Linked DNA regions of Homo sapiens: region 1 is reported to be linked to region 2. Evidence: microRNA targets listed by miRTarBase, many of them from high-throughput screens and not tested one by one. Region 2 holds a microRNA gene; the other region holds the end of a gene's coding sequence.

Region 1 (3,410 bases), not on the chromosome of region 2:
TTTATGACACAAGAGGAACTAGAAAAAGCACAGGAATTTAAGGAAGAACATATTTTAATGGTTGAAACCTGTCTTTATGAGGCGATTATGACAGCAAAAAATATTATAATGAATAACAATGCATAGTCTACGCTTTGTAATATTTCATACAATAATTCCTTTATCATTTACATCTCTTAATGCTAGAAAAGCATTCTGAAGATGCCAAGCGTAAGTTGCAACTGAGTAAAAAAAAAAAAGCAAAATTTACTCAATTTCCAGAAGAGGTGCAGAACAGAGAATGAAGGTCCTTAAAATATAAACCGCTAGTGTGCTAAAATGATGTCCATTTGCAGGATCAGTGACAAAATATTTAAGCCCATAAAGAAAAGAGTTATACCTGCTGTATGAAGGTATTCATAGAGAAATATGAGTCATAAGCCAATTATTTATAAATGTCTTTCAAAATATTTGGTGCACATGAAATGCAGTATACTGATGGTCCTGGAGACTGTTGCAGTTGAATAGGGCAGCTACTGGGATGATGGTGTTTCCCCCGGATGAGGATGACAGGAATGCAGGGCCTAGGATTTGTTGAGCATGTACACTCTTCTTCTGAATTGGCCACCCAGAAACCAATTATTGAATCAGAACAACACAAATTGGTTTGTGCTTGAGCCAGGTCTGTAGAAACGGAAATCAATTCAGTTGTGGAAATGATGAATTTTAAAAGCTGCTGGGTTTTTTTTTGTGCAAGGTAGAGATTTTCATAACATCTCAATAATCCTTTTGAAATGTGCAGTTGCTTAGTGCAAAAAAAGAAATAGTGCCACCATTTCTTCAACTAAAAGATAAGGTGTGCTTTGTAAAAGTAAAGCATATCCAATTTTCATCCTGTTGGTCGGTATTACCAAGGGTCATGATGTAGCTGGCGCACAAATGTGAAGAATCATTTACTACCTGTAGAGTGGCAGTATATCTTAGATATCATACTTTTTATTAATCAGTTCAGTTTCTCTAGCTGCAGAGAGAAGTTCTCTAACGGACTTCACCAATAGGGCAAAACACATTCCCATTCCAGAAAGGCACATAAGAAGGGTGCTTCAAGACAAGCACACACCAGGCAAGGAACGGTAGCTGAAGTGCATCTGCCCTGGACCAGCATTTCCACACCCTTCAGACCAAGTTCCATTTAAAGGTGTATGTACTACTTTCAAAAGGACCATTGGGTTATTTTCTTGTGACCCCCTGAGTAAAACCACACATTAAAGCTCCACCGTCTTACACTTTGCTACTTCTTACATACCTGTCTTCTTACTTGTTCCTATTGTTTACAAATCTGCCCAAAGATATAATTTTTATGATATTAAGAGCTGAATTTTGCTTAAGAAAATCTACATATCTTTTGTGATTCTTCTAAATCTAGTAAATCAAGTAATCAACAGTTTATTCTCTGCTTGTAAAAAAGGGTAGTAATTTTTCCACATAAAAATCAAATATATAAGCAAAACTAATATATTTGTTGACAAAGTTGCTCCAGCAAGCCTTGAATTTTTCATTATAATTTAGCTATAAATAGACCCAAGGAATCTGACATCCAAGGATCATTAAGCAATCATAAAAATGTATCACATAATTTTAATTCTGAATACTTACTTACAAAACATGTTTATAACTTCTGCATTTCCTTTTATTAAGCATGCTTTCCCATTAGGACAAGTTTTTTTGTTATTTTGTTTTACTTTTCAGCGGATGATCTATTACATAGTCATACAAATACCTTTGTTTAGTCATAATTTGTCAGTAGGCTACTGACAGGTATTGAAGGTAATATTTAACTTTTTATAATGTGAACATTTTAGGCTAGCATTTTGAAGCCATTCTGTCCAAATAGTTTGGATGCAGAATTATTGTCTTTTTGGTGACTAAATAGTGGTAGAAGTGATTAGAACCAAAAATTAGGTTGCCTTTTCAAACACAAGCTCTCCATCTCACAAAAGGAAATTATTGGTCCCCAAATTCCACTTTCACTGATTTATGCTTTGGTCACAAACAATTAAAATGTATGATTTCATGGAACATCTCTAGAAGATAGAATGGATGCTGATGAATCCAGGCTATTGGAAAATCATGAAATTGTATTAGGGATCATGTGAGATAAAGAATCTTTCTTTAGCATGGTACTGGCACACAGTAAACAACTAAATAAGTTATTATAACACACATACTGCTTTTATTTACATTGCCTTGAGGTGGGCTGAAGAAAAATAGGGAGAAAGTAAAAAATTCTCCCCCACAGGCAACACCAATGTTACCTGTGATAACTAAAAAAAGGTTTTCCTTTAGGAAAGGTCAGGCATTCATTCATCTTTAAGAGTGCATGGACACTAATATCTAAAGCATAGAGGCCTAAACTCTTGTACACCACTCTGAGTACTTGGTTCTACTATGTTGAACACTATTTTCCCCTATTTCCTGATACTATTATATTCAAATTTTTGTTCAGGACTTTTCTGGATTTGGAAAATGCACGGCCAGCATGTCTACATGCAGCAATCCTGGTCTTATGAAACCATTTCCTAGTCAATTATTTTTAAGTATCAGATAATATATAACTAGCTATATAATTGAGAAATGAACCAGTCAATTTTGGACAACTTTGGCACAAGTGCTTTATTTGTGCTATTGTTACAATGGTCACAAGTACATCTTTTATCTCATTTCTCCCAGAATTAAAGATATACTTTAGTGATCTGCGTGATAATATTTATAGGTTTATTTACCTATATTTAAAAATGATCAGTGGCTAGACATGTCTAGAAATATATATGGCCTAATATGTAACTTCTCTTTGATAAAGTGAAAACAAGTAATATATAAGCTAATATTATTGAAGCAATATTTTTTGGTACATACTTACTTATTTTATTGTTTTCGATCTGCATGCACAATATGAAATCATAAAAGCAACAAACATCACCACACCAACACTGAGTAAGATCATTTCTATCAGGCCAAGGAGGTTTATTTTTCCAGTTACTTGACTTCTGAACATGTTTGCCTTCTCATCACCAATGGTCCCAGTCTGTAATCAAGTTAATAATCAACATTATTTGGGTACGTTAGTAAAACAAAATAAACCCTTCAATTGCCTATCACCCTTTTTTCTAACACCTCTATTGGTGTTAGTCATCAGTATCTATAAGGCAAGTTAATGGAATTCCTTTTGCAAGTCAAGAAAGGCAATTAAGTGCCAGATAGAGTACGGTACTCTTCAATGTACTAGGATTCATTTGCTCTTCAGAACTATCAAAGGGTCAACAGTTTCATTTGCTCCAAAGACTTATTCAATGTTTTTCCTATTTTTATAGCTATCAATGCATGGATTTATAGTAAAAATACCTTGTCAGGCAATAGAAGACAAATGTTAC
Region 2 (3,410 bases):
AGCCTGTACTCAAACCCGGGACTGCAAACTACCAAAAGGGGCCAGAGGCTTGGGACGCGCCAGGCACAAGCTCAGTCCATCCCACCCCGACCCCCATCCTGGTCACTCACCCTCTTGGAAGAAATTTGCATGCTGGTGACAGCGGCCGAGTCCTGAGAGGGAGGAGGGGCGACGGGGTCAGGGCTTAGTGGGGTGGGGGGGTCCCGGGCGACTGGGGGTGAGGCCTCACCTCAAACACGTGCAGCTCCTCCAGGAGCAGCCCCTCTGCGCTGGGCCTACTGCCCTTGGGGACCGAGATCACCTTCAGCACCGTGCCAACGTCTGCAGGGATGAGAAGGGGTAATGACCATTGGTGCTCCCGGACAGCTGGGGCTAGTGTCTCCTCGCCTTTGAGGCGTCTACCCTCAGCATGTTTGGGTTGTGAAGAGTGTGGACTGGAAGAGTGTGGGTTGGGCAGCATCCACAGGGTGGAGACACAGCCCAGGAAAGGATGTGGAGATGGGACTGAACAGGGAGAGCTTCCATCAGCAGCCCACAGGGCCTGGCTGGGAGCCTGGGGGTCGCTGTGGAGGGACCCTGACCTGTGCCAATGAAGAGGACGTCATAGTGTCCGTCAGCGGCTGCAACCCGGTCCGCGGCAATTTGAGTGAAGGTGTAATTGGCTCCAACTTGTAGGAAAAGAGGGCGCCCCCCAGTGGGCAGGACAGAGTTGTACATGAGGGGGTGGTTCCGCGCAAACTGGATGACATCGTCTGGGAAGTCCTTGGTGGAACTGAAGGTGCCAAAGGTCTTGCTGGGGCACTGGGGGTGGGGGAAAGGGAGGCACAGCAGGGATATAGATATGGGGGCTTGATAGGCAGCCCTCCATGCCCAGCCTCTGGGAACATGGAGGGGGATGGGGACAGAACCCTGCCCTGAGAATTAGAGAGGAGATCAGCCTTGCCCTAGGAAGTCAGAGGCGGGAAACAAGCCTTGTCTTATGATGGAAACGTTTTCCCACCCATAACTAAAGGAAGAAACCACATTCACCAAGAAGACCCCAGGCCAAGTTCTCAAACCCTTGAGGCTTTGAAGTGGGTTGTAGCAGAAGTCCCTGGGCTACGAACCATGCCTGGCCGCGGGTAGGGGACGCGACCCTGGTATGACACCCACTGGTGCATGGGCCCCTCCTTGTGTGCAAAGGGTCCCAAGAAGGCCCGGCGCACGTCGTTCATGCTGTACACGCACACCGCAGAGCCCTGGAAGATGCTGCTGGAGGCGAAGACCAGGGCGAGGTGAGGGGCCGGGTGGAGCCCAGCGGCCCGCCCCGGGCGCTCCCTACCTCCTGCCCCTCACCTGGACGTGGAGAAGACGGCATAGAGCAGCGGGGTCCGGTGGTCCCGCGAGGACAACAGAAACACATCCTCTGCGGGGAAGGGGCCTAGCTGGGGTAGGGCGCACAGCCCCGCTGCGGCGGGGGCTCCCGGAGTCTGCGCCGCTGCCCCCCTCCCCAACCCCATACCCACTCCCGCACTCACGGAGCTGATCGAAGTGGGTGTCGCCCTCGACGCCGGGCACCGAGCACACCAGCCGCGCCTTCAGGAACGTCGTCCACTTGTTGACCAGGCTGCGCTGGCCGCCCACGTCGTTCTGCCGGGACGATCAAAGGGGATGAGGGCGAGACCAGGGCAGGCAAAGGGGTAGGGGCAGGGTCGCCGGGTGTGGCCCAGGGACTCCTCACCCGGCAGATCTGGCCAACGCGGGACACGGACAGGCGTCCCAGTGCCGGCGCCGCCTCTACCGCCGTCTCACGAAAGAAGAAGTAGATTTTGTCGTCGTCTGGGTTCTCGCTCTCCGGGATCCAAAATACCTTGACAAACTTGGGCTCTGACCGCGGCAGGAGGCATGGGTCAGCGGGTCCTGGCCTTGCCTCCTGATGCGAGACCCACGCGCTGCTTCCCCTTCCCGTAGTGCGGGCACAGCACCCGGGATCACAGTGTCTGACCACCCAACCTCTAGCACCATGTCCAGTTGGCGCTCTGCGCGGACCGAATCCAAAGGATCAGGGCCTGCGAGGCAAGAAGCAGCCGCGAGGGGGCAGCAGAGACCGTGGCTACCTGGGGGCGCAGGCGTGAAGCCCGGCTAGCCTCCGATCTCGCCCCACACGTCGCCCAGCACCTTAGGCTGGGGTAGGAGGGAGATGAGGTAATCTGGTTTCACCTTCACTCATGAATCTTCCTCTCTAGCATAACCAGATGCTCCCCACTCCTGCTTCAAATCCTTCTGCTGGGTCCCATTGCTCTTTATTATTATTATTATTATTATTATTTGTTTATTTATTTATTTTTTGAGACAGTCTCGCTCTGTCGCCCAGGCTGGAGTGCTCGATCTCGGCTCACTGCAACCTCAGCCTCCCAAGTAGCTGAGATTACAGTCAGAGCCTACCACCACACCTGGCTTTTTTTTTTTTTTTTGAGACGAAGTCTCGCTCTATTGCCCAGGCTGGAATGCAGTGGCACAGTCTCCATTCACTGCAACCTCCGCCTCCTAGGTTCAAGCGATTCTCCTGCCTCAGCCTCCTGAGTAGCTGGGATTACAGATGCACACCATCATGCCGGACTAATTTTTGTATATTTAGTAGAGACGGGGTTACACCATGTTGGCCAGGCTGGTCTCAAATGCCTGAACTCAGGTGATCCGCCCGCCTCAGCCTCCCAAAGTGCTGGGATTACAGGTGCACACCACTGCACCCGGCCAATTTTTGTATTTTTTAGTAGAGACAGGGTTTCACCATGTTGGCCAGGCTAGTCTCAAACTCCTGGCCTCAAGCGATTTGCCTGCCTCCGCCTCCCAAAGTGCTGAGATTACAGGTGTGAGCCACTGTGCCCACCAGCCCATAGCCCTTATTTAATTTTTATTTGATTTAGAGACAGGGTCTGCTCTGTCCTGCAGTGGCAGCATCATGGCTCACTGCAGCCTCCAACTCCTGGGCTCAAGTGATCCTTCCATCTCAGCCTCCTGACTAGCCAGGACTACAGGTGTGTGCATGCCACTGCCCCCAGCTAATTTTATTTTATTTTTTGTCTTGCTTTGTAGCCCAGGCTGGTATGAAACTCCTGTCTTCAAGCAATCTGTCTGCCTCAGCCTCCCAAAGTGCTGGGATTACAGGTGCAAGCCATTGTGCCCAGCCCCCATGACTCTTAGAATAAATGACTCTGGCCCCTGACAGTCCAGGCCCCCTTTTCATTGCTAGCTCTGCAAGTCTATTCCTTTGCTTGTTCTTGCATCCAGGCCTTTGCACTAGTTGCTCCCTCTGCCTGGAATGCTCCCTCTGCCTGGAATGCTCATCCCTAAATTTTGCTGGCTAGCTGTCTTGTGCTTGGGAATTAGCTCATACTCCCCTCAGCACAGCGGCTTCCTTTACCCAACCC

The links. Region 2 holds the annotated microRNA hsa-miR-6872-3p (CCCAUGCCUCCUGCCGCGGUC, at 1,869-1,889, opposite strand). A microRNA usually pairs through its seed, bases 2 to 8, with sites in the 3' UTR of a target mRNA and lowers its output. Matches are read on the target gene's strand: a 7mer-m8 pairs with bases 2 to 8, a 7mer-A1 pairs with bases 2 to 7 and ends in A, and an 8mer does both.
Region 1: miRTarBase lists CD36 as a target of hsa-miR-6872-3p. The part of its 3' UTR that is shown has no 7-base or 8-base seed match.

What each region holds. Positions count from the first base shown.
Region 1 is chr7:80,673,637-80,677,046 of GRCh38, reverse strand. It overlaps CD36 (CD36 molecule (CD36 blood group)), which reads right to left. Exons shown (of 15, transcript NM_001001548.3): 14 at 2,900-3,064; 15 at 1-663. The coding sequence ends at 2,900. Among named protein-coding and RNA genes, the nearest start is that of CD36, 37 kb to the right of the region's middle.
Region 2 is chr3:50,271,754-50,275,163 of GRCh38, reverse strand. It overlaps MIR6872 (microRNA 6872), which reads right to left and starts at 1,928; the gene lies at 1,867-1,928. SEMA3B (semaphorin 3B) reads right to left here. Exons shown (of 17, transcript NM_001290060.2): 7 at 1,721-1,866; 8 at 1,518-1,629; 9 at 1,336-1,405; 10 at 1,107-1,251; 11 at 582-801; 12 at 230-321; 13 at 111-152. RefSeq lists enhancers at 1,288-1,811, 1,790-1,989.